7 linked regions of the Homo sapiens genome follow. The protein of the gene in region 2 interacts with the protein of the main gene of each other region in a pairwise test. Each region holds a gene or a part of one and is shown on either strand. Other genes may lie near its edges. The genes, in order: SLC7A1, MS4A13, SSMEM1, GJA8, LRRC3B, KLRC1 and EREG.

Region 1 (3,500 bases), on a different chromosome or scaffold from region 2:
ATCTGTCTCTATCCACCCAACATTTAGCCATAAAAATGAGGGCACATGATAGAGGGGGGTGAGGGGCCACCCAACTCTTGCCAAGGACGTCCTCCTAACTGGGCTCTCAACCCAGGTCCTCCCCTCTCCTTGGCAGCTCCCAATGGAGCTATCACCAACCTAAAAGTTTCATTCATCACATAAACCATAGCTGAACTGTGAAAAGGCTACCAGGTGCATCTGCATTTCTGTCATGAGACCCCCAAAAGCCATACATACCGTAAGACCAACACACAGGCAGCCACCAACGAGTAAGCCAGGAGAGTGCCAATGGACATGAGGTCCACCAAGTCCTTCAGGTCAAAGAGGAAGGCCATCACAGCTGGGAAGAGACAGACACCAGGATCTGTGGAGGGCCATCTGCATGCAATGACAACCAGGACCACCACTGCCGCCCACCATCCAGGGCAGCGAAGGGGGCTGCTTTTACTCCCACCCCCTCCCTGGCCTTCCCATGGAAAGACACAGCTTAAAGGGAAGTCAAGCTTCCCTTTAAGCTTGTGATTAAATCACAGACACAGTCCTCAACAGACAGTAATCATCATTAACATTTGTATAGAGAATCCCTTCATTCTTGTGATTTTAATGGCAACTTTGTAAGCCATCCCTACATTATAGATATAAACATTCACAAAGGTTAGGAGACTCATCTAAGGTCACACAGTTCACAAGCATAGGGTATAAGGATGTGAACTGGGTTCTTATGACTCTGAGTCCTGTGTGTCTTCCTCTAGACCATGCTGATTCACAGACTCATGTGCATCCATCCATCATCCATCCTATCGGTCCATCCATTCTCCATCAATCCATCTGTCCACCTATCTTCCATTCATCCACTCACCATCCATCCATCAATCCATCTCATCCATCTGCCCATCTCCCATCCATCTCATCCATCTATCTATCCATCCATCCATTCATCCATCCGATCCACCCATCCATCCATTCAGCATCTATCCATCTACCCATCTTCCATCCATCCAGCTCCGGTCAGAGTGTGCCCATCATTGGGTTCTAGGTACTCACTATTGAACAGGGCAGACCACAGTCCCCAGCCTTCCTGAGTGTACCCCACCAAGACACAGGCATTAGTGGACAACAGTGCTGGGTGATAAAGAAGGGCAAGTCTGGTGCTCTGGGAGGACTCACAGGAGGTCCTAACCCAGGCAGGCGGGCAGGAGAGCAGAGTTCTTCACATGTGAAGTCACTTCACGTGGAAGAAATCTGAAGAGTTGTTCTCAAACAATATAGTATCAGCCCCTTCACTGTGTCCCTTGCCTTTAAAATGAATTAAAACCTGCACCCTTATTTGAACATCTTTTGTGAGCGTTGTGAGAGTATACGTGTCTATTCACATGGGTGTGTATGTCAAGTACTCATTAAAAAACAACTTGGCTACATCTGCTTTGGGATATTTTCAAAACACATGCAATCAACACAAGCTAAAATATAAACACAAAGCCATTATTTTTCCACAAATATCTCTCAAGCCCCTCTAGATCACTGCAACTAAAACAAATTTAAATGGAGAATAAAACACAAAATTAAAGAGCAATGAGGGAGGGCCTTTTGGATAATCAGAACAGCGCCCAACTGTGCATGCCACAAATGCCGATGTTCCTACTCACGGGAAACTTGAGACTAATTTCTTCCATGTGAGGTGATTTTAGAAAACCAAATACTTATTTACCACTCCCACCAAATGAAAAGGGTAAATCCTGGATTTTGTGAATGGCATGTACTTTACAGTCACTTCAAAGAGCATGATTTGATCTCCCTCTATCAGCAGGGGAAGGAAATTAAGGCCAGTCTTTAATATGATCAAATTCCACGTAAAGCCTGAGAAAACAATGACTATTTCCAAGTCCTTAATCCTGTAAATATACTGGTCACATTCTGATGTATAGTGCCTCTCAATCTGACCACTGTGGTCACTCTCAAGAGCATAGAATCACATAAGAAAATGTTTCATAATTTAAAAATAGGTGTGTTTTATTATACAATATTAATCCACAAAACTAAGCACAGTTTGCTAAAGGCATAAATGCTAATAAAACTTAGTGAATAATTCATTCATTTAAGAAGGTCAAGTGCCTTACCAATGGCTATTTGACAAGTCGCTGTGTTAGAAACTGTGACTGATCTCACATGCCCTAATTTGCCAAAAAGACCCACTGCTCTGCTCAGACTCTGGAAGGAGCTTGGCTACTTTGGCATAAAAACAACCCTGGAATCACAAGGCCGCTCCACCGCCCTGGGTGCACATCCTCGCTTCACCTCCCTGGGCCTCCACTTCTACATCTGTACAGTGGGCTGACGTCTGCCTTTTGGGGCTACGAAATGCAATTGCGAAAGGGGCGGGCGTCTGCCTCTCGGGGCTATGAAATGCAATCGCGAAAGGAGGAGACATAGACCACAGGTACAGTGTGCACACGAGCTTCCTTGTAGGTTCTCCTTTCCTTCATCTGGGGCCCTGGAACACCTACACGGCTCAGATTAGTCCACTGATTTCATCCATCAAAATGGTCCTCTCAGCGATGAGGCTCATCTGACAAGATGAAACTCCACTGGGTCTGCTATTACGTATAAACTTAGGGGCAAGTGGCTTCATCAGCAGCACCCTTGATACTCTCTGGGGAAGAGGCGGCACATTTCATAAAACACTGATCATAAGGGACACTTGTTTTCCAGAGAATTCAGAAATGGACGCCGAATTTCCAGGTACTGGCGAGGTCTCCCTTGGCCTGTGTCATGCAGGAAGGTGTCAGCCTGCCCTTGACTACTCAGGGAAACGTCCAGAAATGGGGAGAAAAGGTTTTCGAATACTGTGTGTTCTAAGCTCCGCCCATTGAGATGAAAACCAGAGTGCAAACTGTTCAAAAATTCTCTCCCATCCTCTGTCAAACGGGCCTCTGCCTTTTGTCAAAAGGTCAGTCAACTTTCAATGAACCAGGCTCCAAGTATAAAAACCAGGAGTTAAAAAGACCAGTTAAGATTACTCACAGACCAGAACTGCGCAAGACGTCTCCCTAGGGAGTAATGACTCCATTGTTAAAACATTTCCATGTGAAATGAGTTCTAGTACTCACCAGCAACGGCACCCGAGGCTAATGTGGCGATTATTGGTGTTTTGGTCCTATCATTGACGTTGGCTAAGAATTTAAATAGCAGTCCATCCTCAGCCATGGCATAGATAACCCGAGGCATGGGAAACATGGAACCTAGAAGACTAGATGGGGAGAGGCAAACCGCGTGAGTGAACCTGGCTCATAAGGGATAAAGGCACCACATCCAGCCATGCTCGGTTTACCACGGAGGAGAGGGAGTCTGAGCTCACCAAGAGCTGCCGTCCCTCCACGCTGGGTGAGGCCTGTGGCTAAAAGACTTGGCATTTAATAAATCAATCCCAGAAAGAGCACACACTGTGAATAAGGATTAAGGTAAAGAATAGGGAACATCTA
Region 2 (3,500 bases):
GATTTCAAAATTATTAAAAAGAATAATTTTAAAATTAATATGTTCCCATAGAATTGGTCACTTACTGCTTGTCCATAATTCCTGTATGACACAGAATTAAAATGAGACAACTCTATTATTGTTAGAGTTACTGCAGTAATTGTAGTAATTATGCAGATGATGTTTATGATTAAAGTACTTATAATCTGAAAAGGAGACAGAGGGCAAATTTATTATATTCAGAATAAACATTTTGGTGTAATAGTTTGCATTGCTGAAAAAACTCATCTAGTTAAAACTTTGATCTAGTTTCTGAAGTCTTAGAAGTATTAAATATTAAGAAAATATTTTTCTGATTTATATGAAGCCCAGTTAATCTGGAGGAAACATTAACACCATCAGTCCATTAATCATTAATCTTCCATTTAGGCTAAAACATATTGTATTTTTTGGGGCCGGGCGCAGTGGCTCACGCCTGTAATCCCAGCACTTTGGGAGGCCGAGACGGGTGGATCACGAGGTCAGGAGATCGAGACCATCCTGGCTAACACGGTGAAACCCCATCTCTAGTAAAAATACAAAAAAATTAGCCGGGCTTGGTGGCGGGCACCTGTAGGCCCAGCTACTTGGGAGGCTGAGGCAGAATGGTGTAAACCCAGGAGGCAGAGCTTGCAGTGAGCCGAGATTGTGCCACTGCACTCCAGCCTGGGTGAGAGAGAGAGACTCCATCTCAAAAAAAAAAAAAAAAAAGTATTGTGTTTTTCAATGTTATAGGTCATTTGGAAGAAAGCATATAAGATATGATTTGGACAAAAGTGGTTCCACTGTAAGAAAAAAAAAAAAGTGGAAAATGACTGCTTGTAGAAATAGGAGTCAGTTGATAAAATTTTAATCCTGGGTTTTCATTATCTAAGGAAATCTATCAGTATCTTCAGACATCATTTTTTTATCTGTAAAATTATGAGGGCAGACTAATTTCTAAGGTACGTTTTAGCTCTAAGATTCTAAAGTGTTCTTCCCAATTCTATCCACCTATACCATGCATGGATCTTTAATCTGGACCAATTCTGTACTTTGTTACAGGACACAATCTTGTTCCCAAACTGGATAGTTCAGAAAATGAAGTTTTACAGTAGTATAATGTCTATATCTAAAGGCATTAGGTCCTATTAAAATTTTTTAATTATAAAGTTTACACAATGTTAAAAGGCAGAACATCAAACAAAACAAAAACTATATATACATTTAGAAACCTATACATAAAGTAATCATGATTTTAACCAATACAGTATATTTGTCTATATTAAATTATGTTCTTCTAGATTCATTCTTAATTCTTTCATTTACTTTACAGGTAGGGTAGATTCCTTCATTGTTTAGACGTTATATTTTCATTAAAACTTAATATTTAGCTTTGTGATAAGTGATTTCTAGAGATACCTCAAACATTTCAACTTACTCCAGATCGAGTCGGATACTTTGTTACTCTTATTAGGAAGACTCCTGCAATGATAAACTGGATATAAAAACATATTTATAAATACTCATTGATAATGCTTGCCAATTTAGAATGTACTTTTAATAACTCTCTTGTAAGTCAATTATTTTAAGAATGCTAATAGTAACAAAATATACAGAAGTTTTAGTAGATGGGTCAGGACAAATTTACATCATGTAGTAATACATTGAAAGGTAATAGTAGAGTCACTCATAACAGAGACACATAGGGGACAGTGGGCAGATTCACACTGTGATAATATGCCAGACAGCCTAAGCAGTCCTGACCGGGAACCAAGTTTGCTTTTATGTGTATGAGATACATCATATATAACTCATTTGATTATTGCTTTTAATGTTATCCTTCCTAATGAGATGATGACACTACTTATGATTACTATGTACATATCCAAATATGGAAAAAGTGGTTCAAGAATCTATTCCATATTGTGATGGTACAAAATATGCAGTCTCTTTTATGAGATTGTAGTCATTATTAAGGTAATGGCAGAAATTCATGCCTTTGCCTTTGTTTTTTAAAACAGAGGTTCCATTATTTCATGTCAGGAAGTCTGTCTACTTCCAAGAAGTATAAAACTATGCCATATTGTTTGAAGATGGGTTGCACAATTTCCTCAAAGTATTCCTTATTTGTTTTATTGATAAGACACTAAAGATCCAAGTCAAAGGCTATTTTTGTCATGCTATACACTATATGTAGGAAGCCCAAACCTGAAGCTTACAAACTTCCCATGGATAATTTTAAATCTATTTGTTCAGCACTTCATTCCACAACAAAAGCTGAGATTTCTAAGGAGGTACACAGTGAACGTAAGAACTAGCTCAGAATTTAAAGTGAAAATATCTTGTGAATTTTGAATTAGAGTGCTCTCTAATGAGATTATCTTTCGATTACTATGTGTTTTACAAAATGCCTTTCAAAGTTTAGGCTTAAGTGAGAAGTTTAGTATTAAATTACATTTAGTTGAAATTTTAGATAAGTTATCCTAGGAGTTTAATATACTATTTTTATAATATGAGTGGTCAAACACTAAGGAAAATGCATCATTTATTTGGATTTTGTTGGAAAATCCACAGTTTTTCTCCTCTTTTTTAAGGTAGTGCTTTGACACTTGTGACCCAGTGCATCATTTATCATTTATCACCTATGAACCAGTGCATTATTTATGAGCCATTCATCTTTTATGAACCATGTATCATTTATCTGGATTTTGTGCAAAAATTCAATATTTTTCTCCTATTTTTTCAAGGCAATCCATTGACACTTATGAATTAGTGTATGTATAAAAGTGGGAGACCTCCTAGAGATCATTGTTTCTTCTAGTGATTAATTGCTGTCTCAATGGGCAGCCATATTGTATCCTACAGCCCTCATTCCATCTGTTCGAAGTGTGGGATAAGTGGTTTCCTTGCTCATTATTGCTATCCAACCATTCTTTCTCCTCCACCTTTGAATCACATGTCAGTTTCTATAACTCACTATCCTTCATGGTTTAAGTAATCTATTGACCCCTTGGCCATTCCTCTTTTCGAATGAATTGAAATTTTGACTCTCTGATTCTCTCTCCAACATCACTTAATATTTGGTGATTTTTACACACACACACAAACACACACATACATATATATGTGTGTATATATCTATATATATACATCTATCTATCTATCTATCTATCTATCTATCTATCTATCTATCTGTCTGATCTTTTGATATGGTTTGGCTCTGTGTCCCCACCCAAATCTCATCTTGTAGCTTCCATAATTCCCATGTGTTGTGGGCGGGACCCAGTGGGAGATAATTGAATCATGGGAGCGGGTCCTTCCCATGCTGTTCTTGTGATAGTGAATAAGTCCTATGAGATCTGATGGTTTTAAAAATGGGAGTTTCCCTGCACAAGCCCTCTCTCTTTGCCTGCTGCCATTCATGTAAGATGTGACTTGCTCCTCCTTGCCTTCTGCCACAATTGTGAGGCCTTCCCAGCCATGAGAAACTGTAAGTCCAA
Region 3 (3,242 bases), on a different chromosome or scaffold from region 2:
GGAGAACCAGTTGTTAAACATTTACCAGTGCACCACTGCTTATAGGTTATTGAAAAAGATGTCATAGACAGTTCATAATCCTGTAATAGCACTAACCATGAGGATGTGGGAAGGGCAAGCAATGTGAAGGGAGAGAGCTAAGGAGTGAAAAAAGAACTTGAGTTCCACCTCCCAGTAATTCATAGCTTCTTGCTAAGCAGCTAAACTGTCCCTCTGCACTAGGGAGTCCAAAGCAAAAACTCACCCAACCCCAATGGGCCTCCTCTAGTGTGCAAAGTCTTACAATGCTGTTGGCTGTTCATCTCTGTTTTTTGCTTTCCACACTCAGCACAAATTTCTTTCTTTGTCTTTATTTCATTTTTCTTTTTTTCTTTTTCTTTTCTTTTCTTTTTTTTTTTTTTTTTTTTTTGGTACTGGGTCTCACTATGTTCTCAAGCTGTGGTCTTGAACTGCTTAGCTCAAGCAATCCTCCTGCCTCAGCCTTCTGAGTAGCTGGGACTACAGGCATGCAACACCACACATATTCTTCCCCTCATAGTCCAACACCAAATATGCACTGGTTCTCACCTTTCCTTACTGAAGTACTTGTCCCACTGCCTTCATCCTTTTTATCCTCAGACATCTGTTTCAGAAACATAGGTTAGTAAGAGTGATCTCAGTTGTTTTTTGATAATATGTACTTGTTATAAAACACTATTGCTGAGGCCCATTTATAATGTCTGGTTTTATTTTTTTATTATTTTATTTATTTATTTTTGGAGAGTCTCACTCTGTTGCCCAGGCTGGAGTGCAGTGGCATGATCTCAGCTCACTGCAACCTCTATCTTCCGGGTTCAAGTGATTCTCCTGCCTCGGCCTCCCAAGTAGCTGGGATTACAGGTGCCCGCTACCACGCCCGGCTAATTTTTGTATTTTTAGTAGAGACAGGGTTTCACCATGTTGGCCAGGCTGGTCTTGAACTCCTGACCTCAAGTGATCTGCCCACCTTGGCCTCCGAAAGTGCTGGGATTACAGGTATGAGCCACTGGGCCTGGCCTGACAATGTCTAATTTTAAACATTCAGTTTAAACAAGTACTTACTGAGTTAAATAATAAGCTAATTCAGTATGTATTGAGTTCCTGTTATAGTGATCCTACTTCCACTTCCCATTAAGACTATGCTTTGATAGCAGCATCTACCAAAATGTTTTGGACCAAACAAAATGGAACAGACTTGAGAGAAAATAACACTGACAAGGAGCTATAGCTTATAAAGCTTTCCTGTACCCATTTACATTACAGAGAAGTAGTGTTTTTAAAAAATTTGATAGTACTCAGATTAGTTTAGTTGTTGTTTTTTTGTTTTGTTTTTTTGTTTTTGTTTTTGTTTTTTTTTTGAGACGGAGTCTTGCTCTGTATGCCCAGGCTAGAGTACAATGGTGCGATCTCAGCTCACTGAAATCTCCGCCTCCCAGGTTCAAGTGATTCTCCCGTCTCAGCCTCCCGAGTAGCTGGGATTACCGACATGCACCACCACGCCCGGCTAATTTTGTATTTTTAGTAGAGACAGGGTTTCTCCATGTTGAAAAGGCTGGTCTCGAACTCCTGATCTCAGGTGATCCACCTGCCTCAGCCTCCCAAAGTGCTGGGATTACGGATGTAAGCCACCGCGCCTGGCCCAGATTAGTTTAGTTCTTAAAGGACACTTGATCAGGGTACATTACTGATAGTTCTTTAAGACAGAAGACATCTACCATACACAAAGATCTTTACCGAATTCATGAACTTAATATCTCCTTAATCCCTCCGAAAGTTTCCTCCAAAATGTAATCATGATATATTATTTGTGAATACAGCAACCAAAAGAAATGGATTTCTTTGAATAGTTTCAATTTCAAATATTCTGCCCCCCAATACTCCATAAATATATTTGTCCCATTTTTCAGATTAGTGTCCCACTTTCTAATGCTGAAAGTGATTTTGCCAAAAGACACAGATATAAACCAACTCTTTCAGAAAATAACAAAAACTAGAAATTTTCATTAACACCTTTGACATATAATTCTCTCTCCAGGAATCTATCAGCAAGAAATAACCCTCAGAAGAAAGAAAGCTTTGTCCACAGAAACATTCATCACAGTATAATTAGGATAATAGAAAATTCAAAAGTAGACAATGGTTTAAGTAAATTATGGTACAATTATATAATAAACAGTTGTAAAATTATTATAATAAAAGTATGTCATAACATGAGGAAATAAGTGTGCTACCATACTGGGTTAAACATCAAGATGCAAATTTGTATATACAGCTTGAGCGACAAATTAGCTTAAAATATGAAAAAAAAGACTTTAAGGAGCATATAAAAGTGATAGCTATGGTTGGCTTTAAGTGGTGAAATGGACTTTTTCTCTTCTAATTTTTTCAAATTGTCTACAATTAGGAAAAAAATGAGTTTATGTGGAAGTCCAGTTTCTTTGGGATGAAAAGTGCCATAGTTCGGTATTTATAACTGCAATCTAAGATCCTCAGCTCATTCTTAATATCTGATCTCTGCAATGGTAGGCAAGCATCTTTAATGAGGTGCCTTTTTGTTTTCTGGGTTACAGCAATCATTCTCCAAAAATCTTGAAAGCGGAGTTCACTTTTAAGATACCACTTTCTGGCCAGACACGGTGGCTCATGCCTGTAATCCCAGCACTTTGGGAGGCTGAGGCGGGCAGATCACAAGGTCAGGAGATCGAGACCATCCTGGCTAACACGGTGAAACCCTGTCTCTACTTAAAATACAAAAAAAATTAGCCGGGTGTGGTGGTGGGTGCCTGTAGTCCCAGCTACTCAGGAGGCTGAGGCAGGAGAATGGTGTGAACCTGAGAGGCGGAGCTTGCAGTGAGCAGAGATTGCACCACTGCACTCCAGCTTGGGTGACAGCGAGACTCTGTCTCAAAAAAAAAAAAAAAAAGATACCACTTTATAAAAAATGCTTTTGGAAGAGGCTTAAATATTTTAAATTTAATATGTATCACTTAGGTTATAGAAAAGGAAAAAAATAAATTTAATATATGTAAAGAAAATCAAAATAATTGGAAGTTTATAAACCTAAAAGTTAACAGTAGTTGGTTATTTCTACATAATCTGGAGTGATTTTTATTTTATTTTGTCTTCTGCCCTATAATTTCCACATTTTCTATATAATGTGTACTTTTGTAATAGACAGGAGAAGGTATTTAAAAACACTTATTAGGCTTATATCATTTCCACAG
Region 4 (3,975 bases), on a different chromosome or scaffold from region 2:
CGAGCTGCTGGGTCCTTCCCCCTCTCCATTACCCATTTCTCCAAGGAACTCTTCCCAATGCCAGACCCATGACTGGGGATGCCACAGCTGCTGTCACTTTTTCAGGAGAAGAGAAGCTGCTGCAGGATGCCCTGCCTGATTGGGAGCTTATGAGGCCTCAAGAGGAGGAGCACTCTCTGCTCTCCCACAAGAAGCGAACAGCTATTGTGCCTGCCCTGACAGCACAGGCTGGACATTGCAGATGCCTGCAATTAGTATCCTGCCACCAGGTTCTGTCTGGCCAGACTCCAAATCACAGGTTGGAAATAGGCTTTTGTGTTTAACAAATATCACTGTGATTAAAAAACAATAGGCATATCCCTTTAGCCCCATAGGTTCCTAGGCCTATAGCATGGGGCATGGCTAGAAGAAGCCCAGAGCAAGATCCTCTAACATGGGCTCTTGCCCTGGTCTGAGGGCAGTGATGAGTAAACTTATAACTCTAGAGATGTTCAAGCTGCAGGAACAACTGTTCTCCATTGAGGTGGAAGTTTTGCTCATCATTCTTTATAGGTTACAGGTTTGCACTGGATGAATGACCCAGTTGCAGCCAGCCCCTTGTCAGCTCAATGCCATTTCCATTAGCCATTGCTGTGCTACAGGCATTATATACTATCATGTTTAACGATATTTTTTCTATAGACCAAATTTTTGACTCTATTAAAACAGCCATATGTTACAGACCCTGAAACATTTTCATTCCATAGGACACTAAAAGTGTCCTAGAAGACCTTCCTCATCCTGTGACATGATTCCTTCCCAAAGCATTCTCTCTGTTCTTTGGATTTAAAAGAGTAATAATAAAAATATACGGCCCTCAATGTGTAAAGCTATTAATAAGGGTTTCCAGATTTCAACCTAGAGAAGAGGAAACATAAATTAAGAGCACAGAAGTCAAAGAATTGTGTAGCTTTGATTGCAGGCAGTTTATCTCAATGGTGTAGTGGGAAGAACCCAGCCTTTGTGATCAAGCAAACAGAACTGCTGCTATTTAGCTGTCTAATCTTGGACAATATATTTAGCCTCTCTGAGCCTCAGATTTCTTTTTTCTTTTTTTTCTTTTTCCTTTGAGACAGGGTCTTTCTCTGTTGCCCAGGATGGAGTATAGTGGCACATATCAGGGTTCACTGCAACCTCGACCTCCCAGGCTCAAGCAATCTTCCTGGCTCAGCCTCCCAAGTAGCTGGGAACACAGGCATGCACCACCGAGCCCAGCTAGTTTTTAAAGTTTTTTGTAGAGATGGGGTCTCACTGTGTTGCCCAGGCTAGTCTCTATCTCCTGGGCTCAAGTGATTCTCTTGCCCTGGCCTCCCAAAGTTCTAGGATTACAGGCATGAGCCACTGTGCCTGGCCTTCAGTTTTCTTATTTGTTGGAATCAACTTAGTTAACAAATACTTATCAAGTTCTCACTGTGTGCTGGGCTGTATGTCAGGCATTGAGTATATAGCTGTAAATAAGACAGGCATGGCTCCTACCGTCATGGAAATTACAGTCTAGCAGGATCAAGTTAAATGAAATAATATAATGTCAAAGTTCTTTCACAAAGTTGGTATTCAATAAATGCTAATCCCCTTCCACTTCCCTTCAAATATACGATCATTATATATTCTGACACTCAAACATAAGATGGCCACAGACAATTTCATACATACAAGAATTGTGTTGGGAGCCCAGACACCCATAGTATAAGGGAACTCTTCAGCATTATGTCTCACGAAACTTAGATCAGTGTGTGGTCTTGATTTAAATCCATGTAACCAAGGGTTTCTATTTATGGTCAACAATGAATCCTTATTTTTGGTGGACTTTAAGGAATTATACAAATATTGCCTCATTGATGCTTTCAGACCATTTGTGAAGTGAATGAGAATAGGTATTATTATTATTAAACCCATTTTACAGATGAGGAAGCGGATGGAAGCACATTCTTCGGGGCCTTCTTTGTTCTCTAGTCCTAGTCTGCACAAAGGAAGCACTGGATAGACGCTGTGTGCACATTGACCGTTCTGGCAACTTGGAAAGGAGAGGTACCCCGCGTTAGCAAAAACAGATATTGACTCAGGGTTGCATTGCGGCCGCTCAGCTCTTGCCTTCTCCCTCATTTCTTCAGGTGGGTGAGAAATGGGCGACTGGAGTTTCCTGGGGAACATCTTGGAGGAGGTGAATGAGCACTCCACCGTCATCGGCAGAGTCTGGCTCACCGTGCTTTTCATCTTCCGGATCCTCATCCTTGGCACGGCCGCAGAGTTCGTGTGGGGGGATGAGCAATCCGACTTCGTGTGCAACACCCAGCAGCCTGGCTGCGAGAACGTCTGCTACGACGAGGCCTTTCCCATCTCCCACATTCGCCTCTGGGTGCTGCAGATCATCTTCGTCTCCACCCCGTCCCTGATGTACGTGGGGCACGCGGTGCACTACGTCCGCATGGAGGAGAAGCGCAAAAGCCGCGAGGCGGAGGAGCTGGGCCAGCAGGCGGGGACTAACGGCGGCCCGGACCAGGGCAGCGTCAAGAAGAGCAGCGGCAGCAAAGGCACTAAGAAGTTCCGGCTGGAGGGGACCCTGCTGAGGACCTACATCTGCCACATCATCTTCAAGACCCTCTTTGAAGTGGGCTTCATCGTGGGCCACTACTTCCTGTACGGGTTCCGGATCCTGCCTCTGTACCGCTGCAGCCGGTGGCCCTGCCCCAATGTGGTGGACTGCTTCGTGTCCCGGCCCACGGAGAAAACCATCTTCATCCTGTTCATGTTGTCTGTGGCCTCTGTGTCCCTATTCCTCAACGTGATGGAGTTGGGCCACCTGGGCCTGAAGGGGATCCGGTCTGCCTTGAAGAGGCCTGTAGAGCAGCCCCTGGGGGAGATTCCTGAGAAATCCCTCCACTCCATTGCTGTCTCCTCCATCCAGAAAGCCAAGGGCTATCAGCTCCTAGAAGAAGAGAAAATCGTTTCCCACTATTTCCCCTTGACCGAGGTTGGGATGGTGGAGACCAGCCCACTGCCTGCCAAGCCTTTCAATCAGTTCGAGGAGAAGATCAGCACAGGACCCCTGGGGGACTTGTCCCGGGGCTACCAAGAGACACTGCCTTCCTACGCTCAGGTGGGGGCACAAGAAGTGGAGGGCGAGGGGCCGCCTGCAGAGGAGGGAGCCGAACCCGAGGTGGGAGAGAAGAAGGAGGAAGCAGAGAGGCTGACCACGGAGGAGCAGGAGAAGGTGGCCGTGCCAGAGGGGGAGAAAGTAGAGACCCCCGGAGTGGATAAGGAGGGTGAAAAAGAAGAGCCGCAGTCGGAGAAGGTGTCAAAGCAAGGGCTGCCAGCTGAGAAGACACCTTCACTCTGTCCAGAGCTGACAACAGATGATGCCAGACCCCTGAGCAGGCTAAGCAAAGCCAGCAGCCGAGCCAGGTCAGACGATCTAACCGTATGAAGTGACGCCAAAGAAAAAAAAAAAAACGCCCAAGCTTACGTAGGGCAAGATGAAAGGAACAGGTGCCAACATGATCTGAATCTTCTGTCTCCTGTCCTCCCACCAGCCTCTGGTTGGACAGGCACTGCAGCAGGGCAGTGCACTCCAGGCAACTCTAGGAAACAGTCTTTCCCACATCCAGCATAAGGGCTACCAAGATAAACCCATCGACCCACTAAAGTTCCCCAGTCTCATAGGACTACCCCGCTCCTCCAACCCCAGCAGCTATGGGTGACTCTTCTTTCATCCCCATTTCTCCATAGAAACCCTTAAATCGGAATTGGGGTTGCCTCATAGCCTTTTACCCATCTTGTCTCAAGCTCACTAAGCCAGAATCTATCATCCCAGCATTTCTGAAGCAGATACCATGTGACCATATTTCAGGGATCCAGACTCAAAAGCCTACAGAATACAGACAGGTGACATAAGTTGCAAGACAGGCCTGTTCTAATGCAAGGGAGAGAATGGGGCTG
Region 5 (3,500 bases), on a different chromosome or scaffold from region 2:
AAGGGAAGAAAGGAAGAAAGGAAGGAAGGGAGGAAGAGTGGGAGGGAGTGAGGGAGGGAAGGAAGGAAGGACGCAGGGAGGGAGGGGGAGGGGTAGAGGAGGAAAAGAGAATAAAAGGAAACTAATCTGTATTTGAAAACATACTTACCACTTTGTCAAATATTACTCCATGGTTGAGAATAGCTTCACATTTTTAAATAATATTTGTTTCCATTTTATTTCTAATAAAAGGCACCTAAAGCATTTTTTAAACTGTCTGAAAAGGTAGTGACATTTGCACTGGACAAGTATTAACATAAAAGGTAGCTTAGAGAGCTTAGGATCAAATGAAACTGTAAATTTCATAACCTTTCCTAATCTGTTCATTTATCCTCCTAAAGAATAAAATCTGTTTTTATTTGTGGAGGATTTTTTTTTTTTTTTTTTAGTATTTACTCATTTATCTATTTTGAAAGAACTAAATGGCCCTTACTATTAACTTACCACCTGTGGTGGAGAAATAGTATGTTCAAGCCTATCAGCTTTTGAGAAGATTCCAGATTTCATTCTCATATGAAATGGCCATTTCATATGTCATTATCATGTTGAGATGTATTAATTCACTAAGTTTTTATAAAGTATATGTAGATATATACTAACATCTCAGAGCTTCCATCATGGCTCCAAACCATTTATCAAATAAAGTTCATCAAAGTCACAATCTTCAGATAATAAAATGAATACAAAATTTATTAATCTTATGGATTATTCAAATCTAAATATAGATTAAGATATTTTATATTTTTTTAAATAAAATCAATAAGGGTAAAGCTTCTCAGGTCCTACTCTGAGCTTTTTTTTTTTTTTTTCCAGTATCTTCTTCAAACTCTTTCTACAGAACCTTATTATTTAGCTTCTCTTGCTATTAAAATTAATCAAGATCAGATATTCCGAATCTTGATTATTTTTTTTCAAATATCTTACCCAAGACTTTTAACTCATACTATGTATTGTATAAACATATCTATTCATTGTGTTCTGAATAAAAGTTTTTATTTTTCCATATCCTTTGTCTTAGAGCATATTGCTTAATAATAATTGTTATTCTAAATGTCAATGAACTCATATTTATATGATTTAAGATAAAGGTACACCCCAAAGAATCTCCCCAGCAGACGTGTCATGTGGGACTTTTGATATTGCACCACCTAGCAGCCACAGTAAAATAAGTAGAGGGGATTGGACCACATAAGTAAGATGAGGATAGAGCTCCCCTGAATAAACTGGGAATTGGAAACCAGAATGTCTGCCCAGGTTCCAAAGGATTCCCCTTCCTGTGGTTCCTAGGACATAGACCATTTCTTTTGGATATTGTCACACTTAACTTCAGTGTTATGTCTCTTTTCTTTAACACTGCTGCAACTCAACTAAGCCGGTATCCCCACCTCCAGAAGGTCACCCTTCTGGATGATCTGGTTTTGAATGGCTCTTCCTGAAGAGTGGGGCAGCTGTGCAAGTTTTTCCTACTTGCATAAAAACAAAATTGACTTCTAATGAATTCTCCGGAAAATGAATGCTTCTCCTTGAGATAACTGGGGTCTTGGGGATTCAGAACAGTCAACCTGACACAAAACGCAGACTGAGGTCGAGGGTAGGAAAAAAAGGAAGAGGAGGAGCAGCTCTTAGTGCACGTTGGCTCTCTGTGGGCATTTTGGTCACACTTGGGTGCCTCAGCAGCCAAGCCTCACCTCCATCTTCCTCCACCTCATCCCTCCTCTGACAATATTGTTGCCTCACTCTCTTCTTTTCTTCCTCCACTATAGGATGGCCTAGGTCCTCACTATAGGATGGCCTAGGTCCTAGTGTGCCACAGCATTAGAGATGGAAATCCTATTCCAGGTGACCTAAAAGGCACCAGGTTTCCACTATCTGTCTATGACTCTTGCCCCGCTGATCTGATTCTGAAAAACAGGATTCTTCTATCCCTCCTCCCTGTTTACCCTGGCTGACTTTTTGTTGGTTTGTCTCCAAGGGGAGGACATCCTGGTACTACAGCTACAGAGAAAAGACATGAGGTGTTCTTGGAAACTAGAACTTTGTCCCACAAAAACGCTTAAAGGTATATGAAATCCTCAAGTGACTGCAGAAAGTCCCCTTTGTTGAAGGGGCCAGGTAGGCGAGGAAGTGGCAAATATTATCGGAAGTGACAAAGAACTATTTTTCCTCTTTCTGAGCCCCAAGTACAGAAATATATTGTTTTGCCTCAGCTTTACATCAGCATAAACTTTAATGAAAAGTCAAGAATCCAGGAGAAATCCAAGAATTTATGCCACTGTATTCAAAAGAATGTTTCCTGTGATAGGAAAAATTCCCTGTTATTTTCACAAATACCTGGGAGTGCAGAAGGATGAAGCAACTCAATCTAACAGAAGACTGCTAAAATCATTAGAAATCATTTAATCTTATTTAGAATCATCCAGAGGTTTGCATAGTTAATTTTTGTTGATTTGAAGGCTTACAAATATTCTGCAATGTTTTATTTTTGCAAAAAGAGTCACATTTGTGGTAGCTTATTCATTATATATGATATAGAGTTTTTCTGGTTATGCTGATTGAGAAGCATTTATACGAAAATAAGCAAAACAGTCTTTTTAAAAATAAAAAGCCTTTTCCTAATTAATTTTAAGATGTTAAAAAAACAGCAGGAGTGAGCATAATTTATTTATGTATAATGGTACCATATTTGAGCAAGGGTCAAAAGGCAGTGGTTCCAGCATTAGTTATGCTACAAATGCACCAAATGGCCTTGAGCTCAGCATTGAATCTCCTCCCTGAGTCTGGATTGGGTGGGATAATATCTGAGATCCCTCTTAGCTCTAACTAATTATGTGACTCAATTCAGAGAGAGGCTTTCATTTGCAGAATACAACTGCTACATAAAACTGCCTCTAGTTTTTGACTACAGAGCAAATCTCTGTTCATATTTGGATCCCTCCTTCCATTTACCTTCCTATTTAAAAAGGGAATGTCTACAAAAGGTTCAGAAGAGAAGTCCATTACCAGTAGCCAGTTCTCCAAATCGATTTCCTCTACTAGTATTCCACTATACCAAGGTGTACCCCAACAAACTTTGAGACAGGCGATATGTAACATCAGTCTCCCTAATACTCTAGTCACAGGGGCTCACAGGCCAGGACTGGCACTTATAGTACGCCGCTGCAGTTTGGAGTAAAGGGTGAGGGGCCTCACTCATGCTTCCTTCCAGACAAATGGTTTTTAGTACCAAATAGGGCTGGGAGTATGGGACACACTCAGTGTTCTCTGATCACCAGACCACTCAGCCCCACCATTTCCTGGCTGAATGTCAATAAGCAAATAACTTGAATTCTTCAATACTGGGTTTCTCCATCTATAACATGAGATAAATAACTCTACCCATTTTTCAGGGTTGTTGTGAGGGTTAAATCTAACACAAACACACACAACATCAAAGATAGTGTCTGGCACATAGTAAGAACTCC
Region 6 (2,425 bases), on a different chromosome or scaffold from region 2:
TATTTGGACTAAATGTGGAATGATTATTCTGAATTTGTCAAAGAATAAATGAAAGAATAATTGTTGAAAGTATTCGCTTCTGATGCAATCGTATGTATATATTTGGATTTCATAACTCAAAAATATGTTCTAGGAGTCTGAAAAACCTTACTGAGAAATAGAAATTAATTTTTGAAAGTAGTTAAATCAAGAATTATAAGAACTATATGAGATGGTGAAATTTGGTTCTTTAGATCTATGAAATACTTTTCCAAAAAACCACCATTACTTTATCAAATTTTTCTTAAAATCAATTTTATTCCATATTATTCTAACTCTAAATAATACAAAAAAATTCAAACAAAAACTTAAAATTATTATGATTGATTTAGATGCTAATTTTTTTACAAAGATTACTTTAATTTTTCTAGCTACATTAATACAGAGGCACAACAATTCTTCCCTGAATACAAGAACTCAGAAAGGTATATAATAATTTTTAAAGTTTTAATATTGTACAGTTTATTTTTTCTTGATCTTAGGCTGTACAAAAATAAAATTTTGGGTGAAAAATTATAAAATTTGGCAATAAGTGTTCATAAATAAAATTAGAGTAAGGCATTCACTTGTCATCAACTATAAGTAAAATCACTATGCTTTCTTTTTATCTGTTGTGTTCAAATTCTTACTGCTATAATATGATAAGATACAAGTTATTTATTGTTCCTTAAAAATCAGATTAGTTCATTGATTTTTCAAGACATGTATAGAGTGGATTTTTGTTTGCTGGTTTGCTTTATATGGGAACACAATTAGGAGATGAAAGGCTGACCCTTTATTGCGCATGTGTGTATAAGTGACTGGGTATTTTGACACTATATATTTACCAGCCCATGAAGATGTATAGATATGTTGCATACGTATAGGTTTATATGTTTGCAAATATGTGAACTAATTTTCATTTTTAAAAATTCATATTGGTCTAGATAGTAATTCATATCTTTATTTAGCACGTCATTGTGGCCATTGTCCTGAGGAGTGGATTACATATTCCAACAGTTGTTACTACATTGGTAAGGAAAGAAGAACTTGGGAAGAGAGTTTGCTGGCCTGTACTTCGAAGAACTCCAGTCTGCTTTCTATAGATAATGAAGAAGAAATGGTAAGATGTAAATGTTTTAAACACTTTATGAAAAGCTTCTTTCGGTCGATAATATATTTGTAGAAATCATCCATATGTGTGGGTATATACATTTAGCTTATATGTTTTCAAGTTTATGTAGTATTTAATTGATTGACTTAATAATGTTTTAAAATTCATATACTGCTAATGTACTTTTGATTATTTTCAGTTTTTGCTTTTCATGGAAAACCATGCTTCTAGAAATGCTTTCAATCCACAATACATTTTGCTATCTAATTTTATCGGGCATGATGTGATCTGGTCATGCAGATTGATCACAAAGTGAATGAACTCCTGTGATACAAGTCAGATCATGAAATAAAAGTTTCCAGCTCTAGTAGTTCCACCCCTGTGTATGCCCTCATCACTTATCCTGACTCCTCTCCAAAACACTGTCTTGACTTTTAATGTTATAAATAACGTTTACCTGCTTTTGAATTTATATAAAGGGAATCATACACTGTGAATTTCATGTCTGTGTTTTTCACTCCTATCTGATATTTATGCAATTCCTCCATATTATTGCGGTTATCTGTCGTTTATTACTGTTCACTGCTGTAGTATGTACAAAGAACACTAAGAATCCATTCAATCCTGTGTCTCTGGATGGGGAAGTGAGTCTCATGCCCTCAGGGACAAAGAGGACCCTGGGTGGTGCACTGGTAGTCATTGGGTTCCTTTGCTGATCCTCCTCACCCACATCCACTCTGGTGTCTCTTGGTATGAGAAGGAAGTACTTCCTCTGGCTGTATTGGTAGCAAGTCTCCTGGTAGATCATCCTTGCCAGTGGTACCAGCCTTGCCTGTTGTTGCGGAGGGGACTCCCCTTCAATACAGAACAGGAGTGAGCTTTGCTGGGCCTCCTCCTATTGCCAGGTTGGGTGTAGGGAAACAGCAGGCCTAGGTCACCTTCTTCTGTCGTGTGGAGGACTTAACATGCTCGCTCGGACACTTGGTTGATCCCTGATGCTAGGGTCCCAGACAATTTCATCTTTCTCTTTCCACCTTTCAGAGTTCTCCATTGCTTTTGTCTTTCATTAATCCCAGAGTTTATAGTTGTTTTTAGTAGGGAGTAGCAGAGAGAGACGAGTCTACACCACCTGGTCAGGATCACTGTTATTCCACCAAAACCAAATCAGATAAAAAAGTGAGGGCTTATCTAGTTAAAGAATGGTGTGGTACCCAGAAAACCCAATATGTAGCTTCCATGTCATTTATTTCTGAATCACAACCTCTAATTTCTCTTCTAAATCTCCAACTCTGA
Region 7 (3,500 bases), on a different chromosome or scaffold from region 2:
TTTGCACTTCAAACACTCTTTCCAATTTATTTAAGTAACTGTTATATAGTAAATACTAATGGTGGTGGTAGTAGTAGTAGTAGCAGCAATTAAGCTCCACTAAATTAATTAATGGCTTCAGCTTGCAATTGCTTTGGGGAATAACGAATTTCAGAACTGAGATTTGAAAAAAATTAGACATATTTTGTTTGAAGAAATGAATAATACCTACCGTGGGGGATAATGACATGTGTGTTAAGCTTGCTTTTTCTACACCCTAAAGGTTGTCTTTTGAGAATAAATACCTCCTATGTGATTTTGTTTAGTCGGTTGGACATTTTCGTTTGGATTCCGGTGCTTATTGGCCTAGGGTGCGTGATAACTAGAATGACTTCCTACTCCTGAAAATTCTCCTTGACTGATAGGCAGCTAGGTAAATGTAATCTAGGTAAAATCAGAATATATCCTATCTAATATGAGAAGGAATAGGCATGCCAGATGAACCACACTGAGAATCCAGTTTCTGTAAGCACAGGAAGAGTTTGAATCAACCTGTTTCGTTGAAGTAGCTAAGTAAGTGGTAACTGTTATGAAAGGATGATTAATGCCTCCATAAAGGCAACAAAATATATTCAACTTTCCATTTCTTTCACAGTTCAGACAGAGGACGATCCATCTCTTGAACATGTACTATGTACCAGTGATATAGTTTGGCTCTGTGTCCCCACCCACATCTCATCTGGAATTGCAATCCCCATGTATTGAGAGAGGGACCCGTAATCCCCATGTGTCCAAGGAGGGAGGTGATTGAATCAATGCGGGTAGTTTCCTGCATGCTGTTCTCAGGATAGTGAGTGAGTTCTCATGAGATCTGATGGTTTTATAAGTGTTTGGAAGTTCCTCCTTCCCGCCTCTCTCTCCTGCCACCTTGTGAAAAAGGGGCTTGCTTCCCCTTCGCCTTCGGCCATGATAAGTTTCCTGAGACTTCCCCAGCCATATAGAACTGTGAGTCAATTAAAGTTCTTTCCTTTATAAATTACCCAGTCTCAGGGAAGTCCTTTATAATAGTGTGAAAACAAACTAATACAACCAGGTATGGTCCTATTCACCTTATCTGTATTATATTATTTAGTCCTCTCAGGGCCAATTTGAGGAAGATACTATTATTATCCCCATTAGAGAAAACTAAAGCATAAAGAGTTTAAATAACTTTTCCCAAGGATACATATTGTTAAATGGGCCACTTTATAGAATTTGGAAATAGGCAATAATACTAGAGTATAATGGACATCACAGAGAACAAATTATGATAGCTGTAATTGAAGTAGAGTATTTAACCCAACATAGAGGCCACAAATTATGGTGGAAAGGCAGTCTTGTGAGGAAAACTTGAGCTACGTGATCTTGAAAAAAAATTAATTTACTTTTCTGGGTGTTAATTTTTCCTATCTTATAGATTTTTGGGGAGAATACAGTGAAATAAACTAATGTTTTTTTTTTTTTTTTTCTGAAATGGCTGTCACAGCCCATAAATGTTCCTTGACTCTCAACTTCTAGCCTCTGGTTTTAGCAGTGTATGTGGACAGTGCCCTCTTCTGGTTTATAACAAGTTTGTCTATCTCTGTAATTTGGTACTGTAAAGAAAGATTTAATTCGTGTAATACAAGAATTTTATTTTTTCTCAGTTAGAGAAGGCTTGTATCTGTTAAGCCGATTGTATATTTTTGGGTTCTGAAAAGTAAATTACACATCGGCATCAGCATCATAATGTATAACTTCATATATCAAATTTCACACTTAATTCTGTGAAGTAGTTATTAGTCTCAAATACCCTCAGTGTATTTAAATTAAATGTCTTGTCTAAGATCACTTGTGACCACAGAAGAGAAGAGTTACAAATTTATCTTTTGAAATCAAGTCTCCTGTTCTTCAACAATTTGAAAATTCTGTTGTCTTTAAAGTTCAGAATTATCCCCTCCCCACTCCATGCTTTTTCTACAATATAAATGCTGCTTCAATTGCTCTTGTGGAACTACAAAAAATATATTTTTGTTGAATGACAAAGAAATAGCTAAAGCCTAGATTTCATTGTCAGTTGAACAGAGTTGAAAACTATTTCACTAAGCTTTTTATGGAGGATAAGCTAGATTCTCATTCAAGTCAATTTTGTTTTATATCCCAATAATAATTTCACCATACTTTCACTACTGAAGAATGAAATCCTTTAACTAATACAGTTTCCTCGGTACAAATTGGAGTTTTAGTTGCACGTGCTTACATCCTTGACATTCCTATTCCTACATATTTCTTCAACTGAGGAAAGCTTTGGAGGAGACATTACCAATTCTCCCTCCAGGAAAATGCTAGCCAGGGGGAAAAAAATGCACATTTGAAGCTAGTTTCTCTATCCTTTGCATAAACTAAAGCCTAACCTTTCCTGCTTGGAATTGCCTCCAATTGCAACCTGCAACTATTATAGAATCCAACTTACTTTGGAGTGTTGCTGTTAGTCTTCTTTTTTAAAGGTTTTTAGTAGTTGTTAGTTTTTCCACCGTTGGAAACTTTGTTCCAGTTGTTCAGGCCACAGGTGAAATGTTTGTCTTTGTTAATTAAAGAATGTTCAGCCCAGGGTGTGCCTCCACAAAGACTGGACTTTCCTTACTCGTGACGCTCCCTTGGACACAGTCCATCGCTCAGGATAGTTTCTGTGAGACTTGCTGCATTAATCCTACAGCAGGATATTTTACAGGTGGAATCGTATATAATTTTAAATGTTCCTTTCAAATTAAAGTGTATAACTGCAATTCCATCATGGATGGATGTGGCCAAGAAAACAGCAAAATTAATTCTAAGTCATGTCCATCTGCACAGCACTATTGCTTTAAAATAGTGGTTCTCAAATGTTCCTGCAATATGCGTCTGCTCCCAAACACTTGCAAACTAGGGTAGAAGAGTGAATGCGATCCAATGAATAAAAAATCTATCTCCAGAGAAATATTACATCCACTATCCTGTTAACCTTAAGAATCGCTGGTCAGGCCGGGCGCGGTGGCTCACGCCTGTAATCCCAGCACTTTGGGAGGCCGAGGCGTGCGGATCACGAGGTCAGGATATCGAGACCATCCTGGCTAACACGGTAAAACCCCGTCTCTATTAAAAATACAAAAAAAAAAAAAAAAATTAGCCAGGCATGGTGGCGGGCGCCTGTAGTCCCAGCTACTCAGGCGGCTGAGGCAGGAGAATGGCTTGAACCCAGGAGGCGGAGCTTGCAGGGAGCGGAGATCGCGCCACTGCACTCCAGCCTGGGCGACAGAGGAAGACTCCCTCTCAAAAAAAAAAAAAAAAAAAAAAAAAAAAAAGAATCGCTAGTCATTACTTTAATGAGTCATACAGGGAGGGAATAAATGCTAAAGCATGCATATATTTCCTTAATGTCAGGCTTTTCATGACCTTAGTGTTGTTTGAACATAATTTCTCTATGATTGGACCTCAAATACTATATTTGGCTTTTTCATTCTTGA

The links.
Region 1: the proteins of MS4A13 (region 2) and SLC7A1 interact in binary tests that used the Homo sapiens proteins (3 or more experiments, as listed by UniProt).
Region 3: the proteins of MS4A13 (region 2) and SSMEM1 interact in binary tests that used the Homo sapiens proteins (3 or more experiments, as listed by UniProt).
Region 4: the proteins of MS4A13 (region 2) and GJA8 interact in binary tests that used the Homo sapiens proteins (3 or more experiments, as listed by UniProt).
Region 5: the proteins of MS4A13 (region 2) and LRRC3B interact in binary tests that used the Homo sapiens proteins (3 or more experiments, as listed by UniProt).
Region 6: the proteins of MS4A13 (region 2) and KLRC1 interact in binary tests that used the Homo sapiens proteins (3 or more experiments, as listed by UniProt).
Region 7: the proteins of MS4A13 (region 2) and EREG interact in binary tests that used the Homo sapiens proteins (3 or more experiments, as listed by UniProt).

Annotation. Positions count from the first base shown.
Region 1 is NC_000013.11:29,519,189-29,522,688, forward strand, and holds part of SLC7A1 (high affinity cationic amino acid transporter 1), read right to left. Parts: intron 3,269-3,500; coding exon 3,129-3,268; intron 362-3,128; coding exon 259-361; intron 1-258. UniProt on the Homo sapiens protein: High-affinity, low capacity permease involved in the transport of the cationic amino acids (arginine, lysine and ornithine) in non-hepatic tissues.
Region 2 is NC_000011.10:60,521,892-60,525,391, reverse strand, and holds part of MS4A13 (membrane-spanning 4-domains subfamily A member 13), read right to left. Parts: intron 1,496-3,500; coding exon 1,439-1,495; intron 186-1,438; coding exon 66-185; intron 1-65. UniProt on the Homo sapiens protein: May be involved in signal transduction as a component of a multimeric receptor complex.
Region 3 is NC_000007.14:130,210,860-130,214,101, reverse strand, and holds part of SSMEM1 (serine-rich single-pass membrane protein 1), read right to left. Parts: intron 623-3,242; coding exon 568-622; intron 1-567.
Region 4 is NC_000001.11:147,905,795-147,909,769, forward strand, and holds the end of GJA8 (gap junction alpha-8 protein), read left to right. Parts: intron 1-1,361; exon of another isoform or gene 1,362-2,150; 5' UTR 2,151-2,161; coding exon 2,162-3,463; 3' UTR 3,464-3,475; downstream 3,476-3,975.
Region 5 is NC_000003.12:26,625,772-26,629,271, reverse strand, and holds part of LRRC3B (leucine-rich repeat-containing protein 3B precursor), read right to left. Parts: intron 1-3,500.
Region 6 is NC_000012.12:10,447,953-10,450,377, reverse strand, and holds part of KLRC1 (NKG2-A/NKG2-B type II integral membrane protein), read left to right. Parts: intron 1-410; coding exon 411-464; intron 465-989; coding exon 990-1,141; intron 1,142-2,425. UniProt on the Homo sapiens protein: Immune inhibitory receptor involved in self-nonself discrimination.
Region 7 is NC_000004.12:74,375,145-74,378,644, reverse strand, and holds part of EREG (proepiregulin preproprotein), read right to left. Parts: intron 1-3,500. UniProt on the Homo sapiens protein: Ligand of the EGF receptor/EGFR and ERBB4. Stimulates EGFR and ERBB4 tyrosine phosphorylation.